Regions from separate parts of the Homo sapiens genome. Here region 2 is linked to region 1. Evidence: fine-mapped expression QTL. Tissue or cell type: whole blood. Region 1 holds a variant in brackets; the other region holds the start of a gene. All regions are shown on one strand. Distances are between the middles of the regions.

The links. PIP is the estimated chance that this variant, and not a neighbour inherited with it, causes the effect.
Region 2: it holds the start of RSU1, and the variant in region 1 is fine-mapped to the expression of RSU1 in whole blood (TOPMed, PIP 0.98).

Annotation. Positions count from the first base shown.
Region 1 is chr10:16,750,758-16,759,277 of GRCh38, reverse strand. It overlaps RSU1 (Ras suppressor protein 1), which reads left to right. Exons shown (of 9, transcript NM_012425.4): 5 at 4,289-4,407; 6 at 6,278-6,360; 7 at 6,625-6,739. Among named protein-coding and RNA genes, the nearest start is that of RSU1, 62 kb to the left of the region's middle. The variant G/T (reference allele first, on the strand shown) is at 4,358.
Region 2 is chr10:16,814,357-16,822,623 of GRCh38, reverse strand. RSU1 (Ras suppressor protein 1) reads left to right here and starts at 5,200. Exons shown (of 9, transcript NM_012425.4): 1 at 5,200-5,309; 2 at 5,540-5,651. The coding sequence starts at 5,543. LOC105376435 (a long non-coding RNA gene) reads right to left here and starts at 4,925. Exons shown (of 3, transcript XR_930708.3): 1 at 4,868-4,925; 2 at 3,882-3,943; 3 at 1,367-1,796. RefSeq lists enhancers at 4,582-4,631, 4,662-4,751, 4,782-4,891, 5,562-5,721.

The DNA of each region.
Region 1 (8,520 bases):
TCTGCCTGTGCTGGCCTTCCAAAGTGCTGGGATTACAGACGTGAGCTACTGGGCTCGGCCTGGATTTTTTTAAATTTTTATTTTTGATAAGTGTGAGTAGGTCACTGTGGAGGTGAGAAAAATTAGTGCCTTTAGACAAGAAGGTTTCTTTGAAGCTGGAGGTGCTCAGGACAACCTGCGGAGAAGAAACTGCTCTGAAAAGGAGGCATTAGTACAGACCTTTCTGGGGCTTTAGAAGACAAGGAAAAAAGATGCTGAAATAGCCTGAAACCCCCTGGTTTTATCAACTTCTCCATCATATGCAGGCATTTGCCCACTTCCAACACGCATTTGAAAAATCTTCCCATGCAAACAAAAGAATTGATACCACTTGGCATAGCTGAGCCCTGCGAAGCTTTATGTTTCAACACCTGAGGTCACCTGAGATTAACCAAGTGTGGCACAAATAGAAAACCACACTTGATAGTTGAGACTATCCAGAGTGGCTTGTCATGAGGTGAGCTTGCTCGCTTAGGGCTAAATCAAAATTTTCTCTCAAATCTTTTGAAAAATAATTCTAGCAACAGCTCTCATTCCCTGAGAAGCCACGTGTGAGCCATGGATTGGGTGTTGGGTGCTTCGGATATTTTCTCTCTTATCCTCTCAGTGATCCTGCCCTGAAGGTGTTGTCAGCCTCATTTTATAGTTGAGGAAACTGGGTCTCAGAGAAGCTGAGTAACTTGGTGAAGGTCACGCAGCTAGCAAGTGCTGGAGCCGGTCTCCTCACCTAGCTGTCTCCTACCTTAAAGCTCCATACTTTTCCTACCGCCACTGTAGCCTCTCATGGAAACCTTGATTGCTAGCAGTGTCAGAGCGGGGCCCTGAGCATGGAATTCCTATGTGTCAAAATGTGGATGGATGGAGATGGATGTTAGCACCTGCTGGAGGGAGGGGGGACAGCCAGCATGTTCCATCCTTCATTCTGCAGAGAGAGAACCCACCATGTCACCATCCACCTGGACTGGTGTCCGGAGAGGTGGCCAGAAGTCTCTGCAGTTCCTTGGCCGCTTTGTAGCTGGGGCTGTTGCTAGCAATTCTTCTGAAGTTTTAGCATTTGTTTAAGGACTTCTTTCTGCCCGCCAGGGTGGTGTGCCTACCACTGTTACTTACTGCTGTCAGCGGCACATGGGACTCTGCTGTGTTCCTTAAATGTTGTGGGTATTGGTTTGTCACTCAAAGGAAAAAGGAATCTGCAATTAAGTAGATTCTTGCCACCAGGAGGTGGAGGGGCTCCAGGCTTGCTCTGGGCTGAAGATTGAGTGGGAGCTCTCTCTCAGGTGAGATGCCTCTTCCCTCTAAGCCTGTCTAACCGTGGATTTCCTCTACCTAATATTGCAAAAGTGTATTTATTTGCAGAGAAAAATGTTAAGGAATCAGCAGTTTTCAAAAAGAGATAACCGAAAGCAGCGTTTAAAGACAGAAGCACCTAGTGTGGTCTTCTCTGCTGTCCTTCCTTTGACTTGCAATTCTTCTCAGAATCCTTGTATCAGAGCCCAAGGGTCTGGAGCAGCTTTGGCCTCCGTGCGGTATGGGGTGTTTCCAGACACATGTCGCCTTCATCAGTCACTTCTGAAGTCTTGGCTCCTCACCCTCTCTTAGGCTGTTTTTTCATCTCAACATAGCATTAATGACAAGCTCCATCTTACCTGTATTGCAAGGTAGTTTTAGTGAACAAGCGAAGTCCTTGCCATAATGTGCTTCACAAATTGTGACTTCATGGAGAATGTTTGTTCTTGCTGTCGTGGCAGTAGATAGTCGTGGAGGTAGTTTTGCTGGGTGTAGTCTGTCTGGGAAGTTTTCTGCCTGACAGGGGGAACCCGCGTTTCCCTTTTGGTTGCCCCCTCTGCTGTCAGCTGTTTCTGGTGAGGCCCTCTTGGTAGGGCTGGATGGAGCTGAATGTGTTAGGAGAAGGATCGATGGCTAGAATGATTTTTATTGTCACAGTCCCTTCCACCTTTCAGTATCTGTCAACTTTTATTAAATTTTTTTTTTAAAAATTGGCTTTTAAGTATGCTCAAAGGGAACTGCGTTAAGAAAAATAAGGGGCTTGAAGAAAGGATAAAAGATAGTGTAGAAAAAAATTCCCTTAGACTTCACTGGAGACACGCCCACACACACACACGCACACCCACACATACCCACACGCACCACACCCACAGCACACACACATACCGTGTACAAACACACCCACACACACACCACACACACACTGCGTACACACACACCACCACACCCCCAAACACACCCTATACACACACCACACCACACTCATACCTACCCCACACCACACACATACCCGCCCCCACACAGCCCCCCACGTCCTTCACACACCACACCCCACCCCTCACACACCACACGAAACACCCAGATACACATACACATAACATCACACACAATACCACACACACACAGCACACACCCCACACACACACTCACACACAATTGACCCTTGAGCAACACATGGGTTGCGGGAGCAACACAATGACTCATGCAGTCAAAAATCCACACATTACTTTTGACTCCGAAAAATCTTAATTCCTAATAGCCTACAGTTGGCTGGAAGCCTTACCAAAACTAGAAATAGTTGATGAACACATATTTTGTATGTTACATGTATTCTATTCTGCATTCTTACAATAAAGTAAGCTAGAGAAAAGAAAATGTTATTAAGAAAGTCGTAAGGAAAAGAAAGTGCATTTACTGTGCTTTAAGTGGAAGTGGATCATCTTAAAGGTCTTCGTCCTCTTCATGTTGAGTGGGCTGAGGAGGAAGCGGAGGGTTGGTTTTGCGGTCTCAGGGGTGGCAGAGGTAGAAGAAAAATATCCATGTCTCATTGGACCCAGGAAGTTCAAACCCATGTTGCTCAAGGGTCAATTGTATGATTTAAAAATTTTTTAGGTTGTGATAAAATGCACACAAAATGTACCGTCTTTGTAGTAGACAGTTCAGTGGTGTTAAGCGTATTCACATTGTTGTTCAGCCAATCCCCAGAATTTTCTCATCTTGCAAACCTGAATCCTACGCCCATTAAACCACACCTCTCCATTCCCCCTCCCTCCAGCCCCTGGCCATCACCATTCTAATTGAAGATAATTTTCAGTGTTAGCAGTTGTAGAACAAAAACATGATTTTCCCTCCAAAAAAGGAATAAATGGAATGAAATCAAGCAAAAGCCTGAAAACTACAAAGCTTCATGTGTATATTTTGAGATATTATCACTACGTTCATAGGGAAGTTGTTCTTTACAAGGAAAGATATTTTGTAATGGTTTGAGTTTTTGTGTAAAGCAGTGATTAAGTTTCACCGTTGGAGGAAAATAACAGCTAAGAAATTTTCAAGTGTTTCAAGATCATGTAAGCTGTCTGACTGAAATTATTAGCCTAAATAGGACAACATACCACACCTTCTCACTTATATGTGGAATGTAAAAAAGTAAACCTCATCGAAACAGGGAATAAAATGGTTACCACAGGCTGGAGGGAGAGGGGAATTGCAGAGATGTTAGCCAAAGGACATGAAATTTTAGTTAGGAGAAATAAGTTCAAGAGATGGATTGTACATCATGGTGACTGCAGTTAATAACAATATGTGGTATAATTGAAAATTGCTAAGAGAGTGAATTTTAAGCAGTCTCACCACAAAAGACAAAAAAAATGACAAGCATATGAGGCAGCGCGTGTGTTAAATAGTATGATTTAAACCATTCCATGATGTAGTATACATACATCAGAAGTATCATGTTGTACACCATAAGTATGTACAATCTTTGTCATTGTAAATATTAAATAAATGCTTTTTTTAATTAAAAAAAAAAAAGGATGGGCATGGGGGCTCACGCCTGTAATCCCAGCATTCTGGGAGGCCTAGGTGAGAGGATTGCTTGAGCTTAGGAGTTTGAGACCAGCCTGAGCAACATGGCAAAACCCCATCTCTGCAAAAAATACAAACATTAGCAGGGCGTGGTGGCGTGCATCTGTGGTCCCAGTTACTTGGGAGGCTGAAGTGGAAGGATCGCTTGAGCCTGGGGAGGTTGAGGCTGCAGTGAGCTGAGATCATGCCTCTGCACTAAAACCTAGGCAACAGAGTAAGACCCTGTCTCAAAAAAATAAAAAATAAAAATAAAGTATAAAGTGACTCTAGGATCATGGCACTGTCTTACACTTTCAGCGTCTGAAACAGAGGTGCCCTTGATAGTCTGTATGAATGTGTCTTTGGTGTCATGACATAGATTTTTGTCCCCCTGCAACAGCATGAACAGGCTGAACACTTTGCCACGAGGCTTCGGCTCCCTGCCAGCTCTTGAGGTTCTGGACTTGAC[G/T]TACAACAACTTGAGCGAAAATTCTCTTCCTGGAAACTTCTTCTACCTGAGTAAGAAACTTTCAATTCTATAAATCTCCTCAACCTTGTACTTTGCGTTCTGAGAGGGAAATTTATTTGCCAGGACCCAAACTCCAAGAGAAATTATTGGACAGAGATAATTTTTTCTTTAGAGACTCCTTTTGAATATTCCTTCGTAGCTCAGCAGTATGTGCATTTGATAGATCGTTATGTGACACCATTGGGCTGAAGTGGACTTAGTAATGTCATATTAACATTCTGAGAGAGATTATATACCTAAATGAGATCAAGCCTCACATTTAGCTAAGAGACTTGACTTTCTTTTTAAATAGCATGCCAAAAAAAAAAAAAAAAGTATCTTCCTATGTTGCTATTAATTCTTTGTAGGATATTTGCCCAGGATATTCCAACCAATTATTTATTAAAAATATTTATTAATAAACCAGTAACACAATTTTAAAATTTTCCAGCCAGTATTCCTATTTTGAGCCTTTTAAAAAGTACTCTTATTGACCTATTTATCCAGTACACAGGCATTAAGAAATTATTGGCCACAGGTGAACACACTTTATTCTTTCATATGCAAACAAATTTCTTGCTGGAGATGCTTTTGAAAATTAAAAAATGATTTCTTCTGGGAACTCATGCACTATTTTGGACAAGGTTTGCTTCCCTTAAATCAGTGTTCTATTTCTTCAAATAGTAACTTGTGTGGCATTCAGAAAATCTGAATTTTCAGAGCTGATCTCTAAAATTTTATTTTTTACCTTACGTACATTACCTTTCTATGACTTTCTCAAGCACATGAAACCAACTATAAAATATTTTCTTGGGCAGTGGAGCAACTATTTTTATTATGTTATATTAACATGCAGTTCTCGGGAGTATGAGCTACAAAGATCACTTGAGGCTAGGAGTTCAAGACCAGCCTGGGCAACATAGAGAGACCCTGTCTCTAGAAATAAAAATTTAAAAAGTAGCCAGGCATAGTAGCATGAGCCTGTGATCTTAGCTACTTGGGAGGCTGAGGTAGAAAGAGTGCTTGAGGCCAGGAGTTTGAGGCTGCAGTGACCCACTGCACTCCAGCCTAGGTGACAGAGCGAGACTCTGTCTCTAAAAAATAAATACGGGTAAACAAAACATGTATCTAATTATACTCAGCTTTTTTGGTTGAAGATAAACAGATGCTTTAGAATTTTAGCCTTCAGTAGGTTGGAATCGTATTATCATTGTGTAATAATTATGAACAAATTTCTGACTACTGATATTCTCCTTAAGTTAGGATTTACTCTGTTAACTTCATGTCATTATTTTAGCCTCTTTGTCTTCATTTACTTTTGTCCTTAAGGCTGTAGAAACACGTAGTAATAATTAGTCAGATTATGGAACTGATGAGCTGTGGTTATAGCCTCCATCACCAGAAAGCCTTCCATTAATTTGTAACACAGTGCTATTTACATAGGAAAAGGTCTATTTTAACAGAGCTGTATTCTCTTGAAAGAACCCTTTTGCCCTAGGTATCCATAAAAGTGGCACAGTAGTGTTCTTTGTTTTACTTTGGATGCAAATGGAGAAATAAATGTGAATCAAAAGTAATCTATGAGAAGTATAGCAATCTTTTCTGAAAATGTGCTGAAACTCTGTGCCCCAAAATGCTGGCGCCCACAGTTGTTAATTGCGTCATTCCTCTTGGATATAGATGTTTTCCTGGACACACCAGCTACACAATAAGCCAGTAAATCTAAGTTTGACCTGCTTGTTATTATTGGGAGCCCTAGGTATGTCAAAGGCTTTTCACCAAGCCAGGGTTATTAATCAAAGCTGACTCCCTCGTATTGATCAGACCTCAAATGGTTGTGTTCCATGCCACCCTGTTTATATATTGCTGTTTAATTTGCAGCCACCCTGCGTGCACTCTATCTAAGTGACAACGATTTTGAAATCCTGCCGCCAGATATTGGGAAGCTCACAAAGTTGCAGATAGTAAGTAATTTATCTAAATTCTTAGAAAATCAATTCACTGCTGCAGCCTTGTAGGGGTAGAATCAAGTCAATTTGAGCAGGAGTAAGGTTTGTTTTGTGGGAATAAACCACTACTCCTGATAGTGTTTCTTGATTATCCGCCGGCACTTGTAAATACATGGAAAGGATTGAGCTTTAGTAGAAGAGAGGACATAGAGGATGAGAGTTTCTGTGGAGCACCTTTTAATGTGTAAATATGTTGACAACTTGTTTTCTTCTGTTTAGCTCAGCCTTAGGGATAACGACCTGATCTCGCTGCCTAAGGAAATCGGGGAGCTTACCCAGCTTAAAGAGCTCCACATTCAGGGGAACCGCCTCACCGTTCTGCCCCCAGAACTAGGTAAGGTTGCTGATGAATGAACTTAGTTCTGGGTTTCATGAATAACAATTATCCTAATGTAGCAATTCTGAACAACCTCTGTCCTCTTCTTGGCAACTACTCTCCACCTAGGCACACGATGCTGATCATTTGAGAACCATTTGTCATTGACCAGAGTTAGCTGTTACAGGTTTGACCTTCCCGGATCCTGTGTTCTGCAGCTGTAGTGTCCCCTGTCTTAGAAACTGCTGATGAAAGATGACCCCGCTCAGCTCCCTGCGTGATGTAGTGGGAAAAGCATGGGATTAGTAGTAAGAGCCTTATCCCTGGCTCCTCATTGACTAGCTGGGTAAGCTTTCTGGGTCTTGGTTGGTTATTAATAACTTTAAGTATCACTCTTACTTTTTAACCCCTTAAATTTTTATTGACCTGGAAAAACTTTTACCAAATAGTTAAAGTAGTTGTTATGGCTACTTGAACATGTTGATACCTCTGCGGGTCGTGAATTTGCCTCTCTCCTGATCCCATCTCTAGTAGGAATTGTTAAATATGTTCTTGCTGGGAATGGATCCTACTCCTGGCCGCTGAATCCTAATCCTGTTTCTCTGCCAGGTCGTTCCTATTTCCAGGGTGGGTTTATGTCCCCCGCCAGAAATAACCTCCAAGCCAGTAATTCTGTTACTGCTTCGTTCCACTGCAAAAGGTTCACGAGTTCCCTTATCTTTTCTTGTGCAGACCCTCCATAGCCTCTCATTTCTTCAGTCCTTTGAACCACATTGTTTTCTCAAACTGCGATTATTTGCTTTTCTACTCCAAAATACCATCATTTTTAAGAAACACATTGAGGAAGCAGTTCTTTAAACAAGTTTGGCAGTTTGAAGAGGCCATTTGTTAGAAATTAGAATGCAATCACCAGGAGGGCAGGGACATTTTTGTATTTGTTCCCTCGGGTACAGTAGGTGCTCAGAAAACACTGACTGAATGAATTAATGAAGCAAGGACCTTGGATGACAGGACGTTAGGAAGGTTATGAGCAGGCTCATGTGGCTAATGGTTACGCATAGGAAGACTGAGACACAGAGCACGCCTATCAGCACCTTGAGTTCTGTTGGCAGCCATATTAGTCTAAAGGGAAGGCAGTCACGTGATTTCGTGGACCAGCTGGGAAGTCCCGCCTCCTCTCTTGCCATTTCCCTTAGCTCTCTTGCTAGTGTTAAAAATCCACCTAGAGGATTATTTAATGATTTTTTAAGGGCTGAGGAGCAACTCAACACTTCTCTTTACTGAGTTGCAAGTAGTCACGTGTTGCTTTGGGAGCAGGGTGACAGAATCAAGAAACGCTTTTTGCAAACATTTTCAAGGCAAAAAACTTCTTGTTAAAGGAGAGATCTCGGGCCGGGCACGGTGGCTCCCAGTTGTAATCCCAGCACTTTGGGAGGCCGAAGCAGGCGGATAGCTTGAGCCCAGGAGTCTGAGACCAGCCTGTGCAACATGGTGAAACCCCGTCTCTACAAAAAGTACAAAAAATTAGCTGGACGTGGTGGTGCATGCCTGTAGTCCCAGCTACTCGGGAGGCTGAGGTGGGAGGATCACCTGAGCCTGGGAGGTCAAAGCTGCAGTGAGCAGTGATCGTGCCACTGCACTCCTGGCTGGGTGACAGAACAAGACCTTGTTGAAAGGAAAAAAAAAAAAAAAAGAGAGATCTTGTACAGTGGTTAATAACCACAGATGTTAGCATAAGTAATAGCTGGGGAGCTTCTGCAGAACTCAAAAACTTGCTCCCTCCCCAACCTACTAAATCA
Region 2 (8,267 bases), 63 kb before region 1:
TTAGAAGCAGCCAGCCCAAATCTTGAACACTTTGCTGCTTAGAAATTTTTTCCACCAGATACCCCAGGTTGCCACTCTTTAGTTCAAACTTCCACAGATCCCTAGGGCATGGACAGAATGCAGCCAAGTTCTTTGCTAAGGCATAATATGTGTCACCTTTGCTCCAGTTCCCACTAAGTTCCTCATTACCATCGAAGACCTTGGCAGCCTGGACTTCATTATCCATATCACTATCAGAATTTTAGTTGCAACTTTTAAACAGTCTCTAAGAAGTTCCAAATTTTCCCTCATCTTTATGTCTTCTGAGCCTTCCAAACTCTTCCAACCTCTACCCATTATCTTGTTCCAAAGTCAGTTCCACATTTTCAGGTATCTTTATAACAAAACCCCACTCCTGGTACCAATTTTCTGTAATAGATCATTCTTGCATTGCTATAAAGAAATACCCGAGACTGGGTAACTTATAAAGAAAAGAGGTTTAATCTGCTCACAGCTCTGCAGGCTTTATAGGAAACATGGTGCTGACATCTGCTTGGCTTCTGGGGCAGCCTCAGGAAGCTTATAATCATGGAGGAAGGCGAAGGGGAAACAGGCATGTCACACGGTGAAAGCAGGAGCAAGACAGCGAGAGTATGGGACAGGTGCCACACACTTTTAAGTGGCCAGCTCTCATGTGAACTCAGAGCAAGAGCTCACTTATCACCAAGGGTATGGCCCAAGCCATTCATGAGGGATCTACCCCCACGATCTAAACACCTCCCACCAGGCCGATCTCCAACACTGGCTTTTATAACTCAACATGAGATTTGAGCAGGGACAAATATCCAAACTCTATTATGTATTTACGCTCAGGAGTACAAAGTTTCCATAAGCACCACCATTGCCTATTCCTTAACACAATATGTTAAGTTATAAATAAACAATATGGTTTGCCACTTAACAAGAAGTAGAAAGTTCAGTAGCACATCCTTATCTCCAATGCTGCCAGACATGTAACTAAGTGAGGTAGTTATTAGCTTCCTTTTCATAAGAAAATTCAATGCTTTTATAAAGTTTTTCAGTGCCTCTAGAAAAGCGGAAGCCTTTACAAAGGAGATTTGCTTTATGTTAATTATGCAAAATCAAGGGTTATTAACAAAAGACCATGTGAATGAGAGAAGCTGAGGAATGTAACTTCATCTTACTCTAATACTCAAATGGCAGATAATTATTTCTGGACAGAGTATGGAGCCACAGAAATAAAATACTCTAACCTTGAAAATTCAGCTACTCAGGAGGCTGAGGCTGGACAATCACTTGAACCTAGGAGGCGGAGGTTTCAGTGAGCCAACATCGCGCCACTTCACTCCAGTGTGGGTTACAGAATGAGACTCCATCTCAAAAAAACAAACAACAACAACAACAATTCCTGCTCCCTTTTTGTATTATGGATAGACATATCAACTTTATGGGTGACAATTACATTGGAAAGGACAGTGAATGCGATAAGTAACACCATCAAATCCAAAAGGTCTTGATAAGCTACAACAATGGGCCAATTGTAACAGACGAAATGTGACAGATATAAGATCTTCCTCTTTTATCAAAAAATGAATTGCAAAAGTACAGAATACAGGGAAAGTTTAACAATAACATGAAATGACATAGTACTTTTCTGAAAGAAAGATTAACATGATGTCACTGTCAAAAAAATGATGCTTAGAGCATGGACTGCATCATTAGAGTAACGGTATCATTTCCACTCAGAAGGGCATGCTTTTCTAGGAGGCATATTGGAATATCTGGGAAGTGTGTACCTGAAATTGAGGAAAGCATAGTCAATATTATTATGTAATTTTAAAATTAAAAATACAGAAAAAAAGAGACAAAATGAAGCTTTACAAAATCTTCCAGGCTGGGCATCTAGGAAATAAGCAGTGATTTTTTAGTGGGTTAGGGATGGTCAGGCTTGGGAGCATGACATTTTCGTGTATAGCCAAGGGAAGTAGTTATTGAGTAATTCAGTTTTTGAGTAATTCAGCTGGAAGAAGGAGAAAAGAGTCAACTGTACTCTCATTCGTAAGACCCACCGTATATCCTCTGGTTCTGCTTTACATTTAATTCACTTGTTTCCAAATGTTTATTGAGCATCAGCTATGTGATACGTACTCAGCGCACTGAGGATAAAGCAGAGAACAAGACAGCCATACAAGACTATCAGCTGATGTCTCCCAGCTTCACAAAGCACACTTCCCAGCTCCATCTTGCTTGATTTCCTGAGCCAGTCCTGAGGCAAAAACCTTAATATTCTTATCTGGTGAAACATACATTGAGCCAACTTCCCAGATCTAGTGGCCAAGGGATAAGTTTCCTGATTCCAAATTGTGTCACCATGAAGTTTCACTGCTAGCAATCAGGACCCTGGACAGGCTAACCATCATCCTAGCAAATTAATCAAACCTGAGAAGGGGGTGTGGGAACCCTGATTTATAGCTGGTCAGTCAGAAGTGTAGGTGACAGTCAACCTAAAGTCTTGTGGAAATGAACCCTTAACTTGTGGGATTTGACTATAAGTTGAGGTAGACAGTGTCAGAATTAAGTTAAACTGTAAGACACCGAGCTGGTGTCTGCTGGAGAACTGTTTCATGTGTGGGGGATTCTCTGGTGTCAGAAGTGTTGAGCCAGTGGAGAGTAGCAAAAACAGTTTGGTTTTTCCTATCTCAAACAGGAGTGAAAACAAATTCCTATGAAACAGAAGTGAATGGAGGCATGCAGCTCAAAATAACTTCAAGAGAGACATGCAGGAGGGCTGGGACTCTCTGTTCCAGGTGTAACCTGGATGTGGGGCTGGCTGGTGCAGTGTGAGGGGCTAAAACCAAAGTCAGGGAGTTGCCCTAACTGGCACTCACAATCCACCATTTCCCTCCACCTGCAAAGGTAGCCGGGTGATGACCTGCAGGCATAATACTGGGTTCTTGCCTCTGAAGAAATTCGACTATCAGTCTAGGGATCTAGGAGGAAAACAATACAAACAAACAAGAGACCACTCCAGCTATCTAGAAAAACCAGTTCAGATCTTCACACTTGAACTCAAAAGAACAACCAAGAATCAATCACCAGAGAGGGGAAGAATCTTTCTTTTCTAGGGAAAAGACTAGATAAATACACGTAAGAATGGACCCTTGAAGAAACATAATTGAGTGAACAGAAGAGAGGTTTAAAAACTATTATCCTCGGTGATACCTGAGAAGAGAGTACATTCATGAAACAAATGCAGGGTGTTATTATAGGCCGGCAGTCCAATAGGACTGGTGTCCTTAGAAGAAGAGACACCAAGGGTGTGACTGCATAGAGAAAATGCCCTGGAGGGACACCAAGAGAAGACAGTCGTCCACGAGGCAGGGGAGAGGCCACAGGATAAATCAAATCTGCTGGCACCTTGATCTAGAACTTCCAGGATTGTGAGAAATTTCTGTTGTTTAAGCCATCCAGGCTGTGGTATATTGTTACGACAGCCCTAGCCGACTAACACAGGTACTGTATGTCTTCAGCCTACCTAGGCAAGATTCACTATTAGAAATTGATAGAATAAGAAAAATTCTGATTGCTTCAAAACAGGACTTTTGCTTTAAAAGAGTTAATGATTCAAGAAATAAATGTATTAGGAGATTACCTACTAATACGTATTGATGAAATTATGAAGTTAGAAAATCATCAGTGGATGCTAAAACTTGTGGGTAAAAATTAGATGAGGAATGGGGTGTAATCAAGTAGCACCTCCCCCCAGCATTATTTTTAATCATAAAGAAAAAAATAGTAACTTTATGGTGAAGAAACCTGGCAGACACTACCTTATTTAAGTGAACATCACCTATACTGGGAGAAACCGATGCCATCTGTACCTTGATATCATGCACTGGAAAAGACACATCGCTTTAGTGGTGTTTCTCCAAAAATTCATAACCTGAAAGGGAACATCAAACTTACTTTGAAGGATATTCCACACAATACCTGGTCTGTATTCTTAAATAATGTCTAGTTCAATAAACATAAAAGCCAAGGACGGTTCCAGATCAAAGAAGACTAATGGAGGAATAACTCTTTCATCTGGAATGTTTTTTAAGCAAGAAATACCTGCTTTCGAATTTAAGAGTGCAGATCCTTTTTTTATCCAATTGGTTCGGAGATATAATTACATTATTTTACCACATCTCCTTAAGGCTTTGATCCCTGCTACAATCTACAATATATAAATGCATATGTGTGGCATCCGTCTTATCATCAATTTAGGTGACCAGTAGAAGAAAAGTGCCTGGTGCCAATTTTTATTCCATAGTATAAAATAGTCTCTCAGGACAGGGTTTTTGGTGAGAGAAGCACAGGATGTTGCTGGGTGACTGAGACTGGGTCAGGAAATAGGGAGGCAGAGGGCAACAGTTTCTCTAGAATTTAAAATTTGGTTGCTTTTGGAAGAGAAAGCAAGAGATTCCTGGAAGCCAGAACGTCATGTTTCACAAATGTAAAAGTCCTAGTTGGGAAAGACACATCGCTTTAGTGGTGTTTTCAAATGACTTTTAAAATAGTAGGGTTTTACTTGTAGGTTCTAGCTACAAGTAAAAAGGCTAAAAGCCAGCCTTAGAAACCTGTCAAAAAAGATTTCCAGCAGGGCGCTGGGGAAACGCAGACCGCGCCGGAATCCCCGCCTGGAGAAGCTCTTAATAGGGCGGGAAACTGCGTGCCCCACAAGGTCCCTCAGAGGCACATTGTGGAGACGGGCTCAGGGTAGCAACTTCTGGCGAGTGGAGCGGCTATTACACAAGCGAAACATTCGGAAGCAATTTACTTCCAGCTTTCGCAACACCCACCCTGAGCCACCACCCTCCCTTACACAGTCACGCCACAAACTTCCCCACTTCCGCCCACAGCCCTCTGGGCTTCGACCCATCAACTGAGCTTGCGCCAAGTCTACTGCGCACGCGCCAACTTCGGCCCAATCAGCGTCCCAAACCGTGGGGTGGACGCCACCGGGATAAACTATCCTCAGCGTGGGGCGGGGTCTCGAAGCCGAATAACGAACGTGATTAGCCAGCCTCTTCCACAGACTTTTAAGGGCGGAGCCTGGCCCTGGAGACACGTCTGGAGAGCTGTTCTCCTAATATGGGTAGGGTCGGGCGTGGAGCTGGCAGCGGCGCTGTGTGCGCCTGCGCGGGGCGCCGAGACAGGGCGTGTTCGCTGTTCAGTGCCGGTGTTGCAGGGAGTGAGGGCAGCTGGAGTGCGTTCTGCCGAAGCTTGTGGTTGCACGCCCATCGTCTTAGGGGCTACCTTCCGTGGTGAGTGTGTGCGGTGTTGCACTTGGGGTTGCTTCTCGCTGCGTGGCCGCAGCGGGGCTGAACCCTTCCCACTCCATCCCCTCCCCGCACCCGGACCAGCCCCTGGGACGCCCTCGGACGCCCACCCGCTCCAACCCTGGGGAAGCCTCAGAGTGGCAGCGAAGGCCTCTTGCCTTTCCGCCTCTGCGCTTGCTGTCATCGCCCACGTGCTTTGTTGTTGTTCGGTGCAGACCATGTCCAAGTCTCTGAAGAAGTTGGTGGAGGAGAGCCGGGAGAAGAACCAGCCCGAGGTGGACATGAGTGACCGGGGCATCTCCAACATGCTGGATGTCAACGGCCTCTGTGAGTTCTCGGGCAGGACTCTCCCGTGGATGAGCTGGAAGGCTTTCTAAGTTTGCCAATTCACTGCTGGTCCTGCTGTGAGCGATTGTACTGGTTTAGACCCCAGCCCCTGCTTGTAAACCTCACTTGTCAGGGGCTTCGCGCAGAGGGTTTGCAGTAGGATTTGTTCTGTTCCACCTGGAAAACGATCCTGAGAGTCCACGATGAGAATCACACAGACAGCTGTGCCTCATCGGTTGTCTCTGCTGTATGGCATTGAGGTGGATTTTCCACAGTTTGCTTAATAGTCACTTTAATTATAAATTGAAAATTAATTTTGAGTCCTTCTTCCTGTCTCCTAATACAGTCTTTGTCCATGAACAAATGACACAGAAAAGTTCCATGGTTAATAAGCATTCTTGTGCCTGGAGCGTTTTAAGCATTTCTTGAATCTTTACATTCTTCTGAGTATTTATTCTCCGAACTTGGTTCAGGCTTTTGTCACCTCCTCATGCTGTGGTGAAATCCTCCTAACTTGCCCTCTTGCCTTCAGTTTCACTGCCCAGTTTAATCACTGGGTCACTTTCAGTGTCATTTTCCTGTAACCCCTGTCTATGGTGTTACCCTCTCCCTTAAAACCAGGGATTGCAGATTCACATGCCTCCAAGTGAGGGCGGTCAGGGGCGGTTATGAACTAGGTGATAGGTGTCCCACTTGAAGGGGCCAGCTGCTGCACCTGCTACTCAGACACATGTCACCATAGGAATGTTGGCCCAATGTGCCAGATTATTTTCTTAAAGGAACCAAGATTCTATATTTTTATGTGAAATTTGCTAATTTTTAGATGTTGGCTACTAATTCTAATATTTGAAAAACCTGTGATAAGTGAGCTAAAGCAGTTCTTCAGGCTGACGTGGCTTTGGTTTAAACCCTCTCCGCACTTCTCCAGGTTGTCCATTATCGACGGTAATGCTCCAGGTTTCTTGGCGTGATGTACAAGGCCTTTCTGAATCTGAACACAACCTTACCCTTCCATGCAGCTGGCATTCCAGCCATTCTGAACCTGTTGCCCTTCCTGGACCAGAGCCTACTCGTTCAGATCTTGGTGCCTTTACAAATTCTGTTTTCCCTCTTTCTCAGTCGTTTGCACCTGAAATCCTTTTACTTCTAAGAGTCAGCTTAGACATCACCACCTGTGTAAAACCTTATCCGTCTGCACCAGGCTAACATATCCCTTCCCTCCTCTGTGAAGGTGGTCGTGTGTATTGCTTTGTGACTCCTCTCACATAGGATTGTACTGATTTTTTTCTTTTTTAATCTAGAAGTCTCTCTTCTCTGCTGGGACATTGGGAAGACAAAAGCTGTGCAATATTCATGCTTGCATTTTTTTAATAATAGTGCCTGGAGCACAGTAGATGCTCAAAAATAGTTGAGGAATGAAGAAAATGAAAGAATGATGGATTAGGCCTGTGAGTTTGGGATATCAACTCCAGGATGTGACAAGAGAGAAGAAGGGAGATGTTCAGGAGACCCTGAAAGGCGATGGATAGCCATTTAGGCATGGAGAGAACTGCAGAGTCAGGTTTACTGTGAATTCACGGTTTTCACGGTTCGAAAACCTGCCTGGGACAGAGGTTGGAGTTGATGCTATTGATATGTCTTGGCAGAAGGAAAAGGGAGGAAACGTAGATTTGCGTTTCGTAGGCTTTATGAAAATACGTGCCATTAAACTTAGGTTGTGTACTAGTTAGCCTCTCAGGCTTGGTGTGTGTTGGTCTCTTGCATTCCGTAAGGGTCCTTGCTGTCAGCAACTGAGCAGATGCCTCTGGAATTGGATATCTGAGTTTGCCCCTTGCTGCGCCTGCCCGGCTCTGCCATGACCATGGTCATTATTGGGGGCACTGTTGATACAGAGGAGAAAGAGAAGGGGATAGGGAAGATGATGCATAGCGGGAACCTTGGCCCCATGGCCTTCCTCCCTACAGCACTCATTCTCACCAGGTAGAAGAGAGGCTGCTTTCAGCAGAGGAGCTTTGTACCCTTCGGCTTTTGAAGAGGAGACTTTATGTAATATTTATAAATGGGGAGAATGGCTTAGCTATTTCGGTTCAGCTCCGTTATCTCTTTGAAGCCTTGGCTTTTATTAAGGAAGAAAAGCCACTTGCTTCCTGAAATATATTTCCGGTATAACATTGGGTGGTGAAAAGCGAGATCATTCTTAAATTTTCCTAAAGAAGTAGCTAACAACGGATAATAGTACTTTTTGGGAAGTTGGGTGGAAGTGAATTTGGAGATTTGCAGATTCCATCTCCTCTGGCTTCTGTAGCATTGAGCCAAGGCTGCTCTCTGCAAACTCCCTGACCTCAGGACTTCTCGGAGCCTAGGGGGTTCCAGGATGCTCTTCGAAGCCTCCACCAGGGCTCACTTCTCAGCAGTGCACACACACTGACACAGTGCTTAATATATACAAGTATTAAAATACTTCACATGGCTACATTAATTATAAGTGTAAGAATTTTTTTTTCTTTTTTTTTTTTTTTTTCCTGAAAACAGGGTCTCGCTCTGTCACCCAGGCTGGAATGCAGTGGTGCAGTCACAGCTCCCTGGGGCCTCACCCTCCCAGGCTCAAGCAATCCT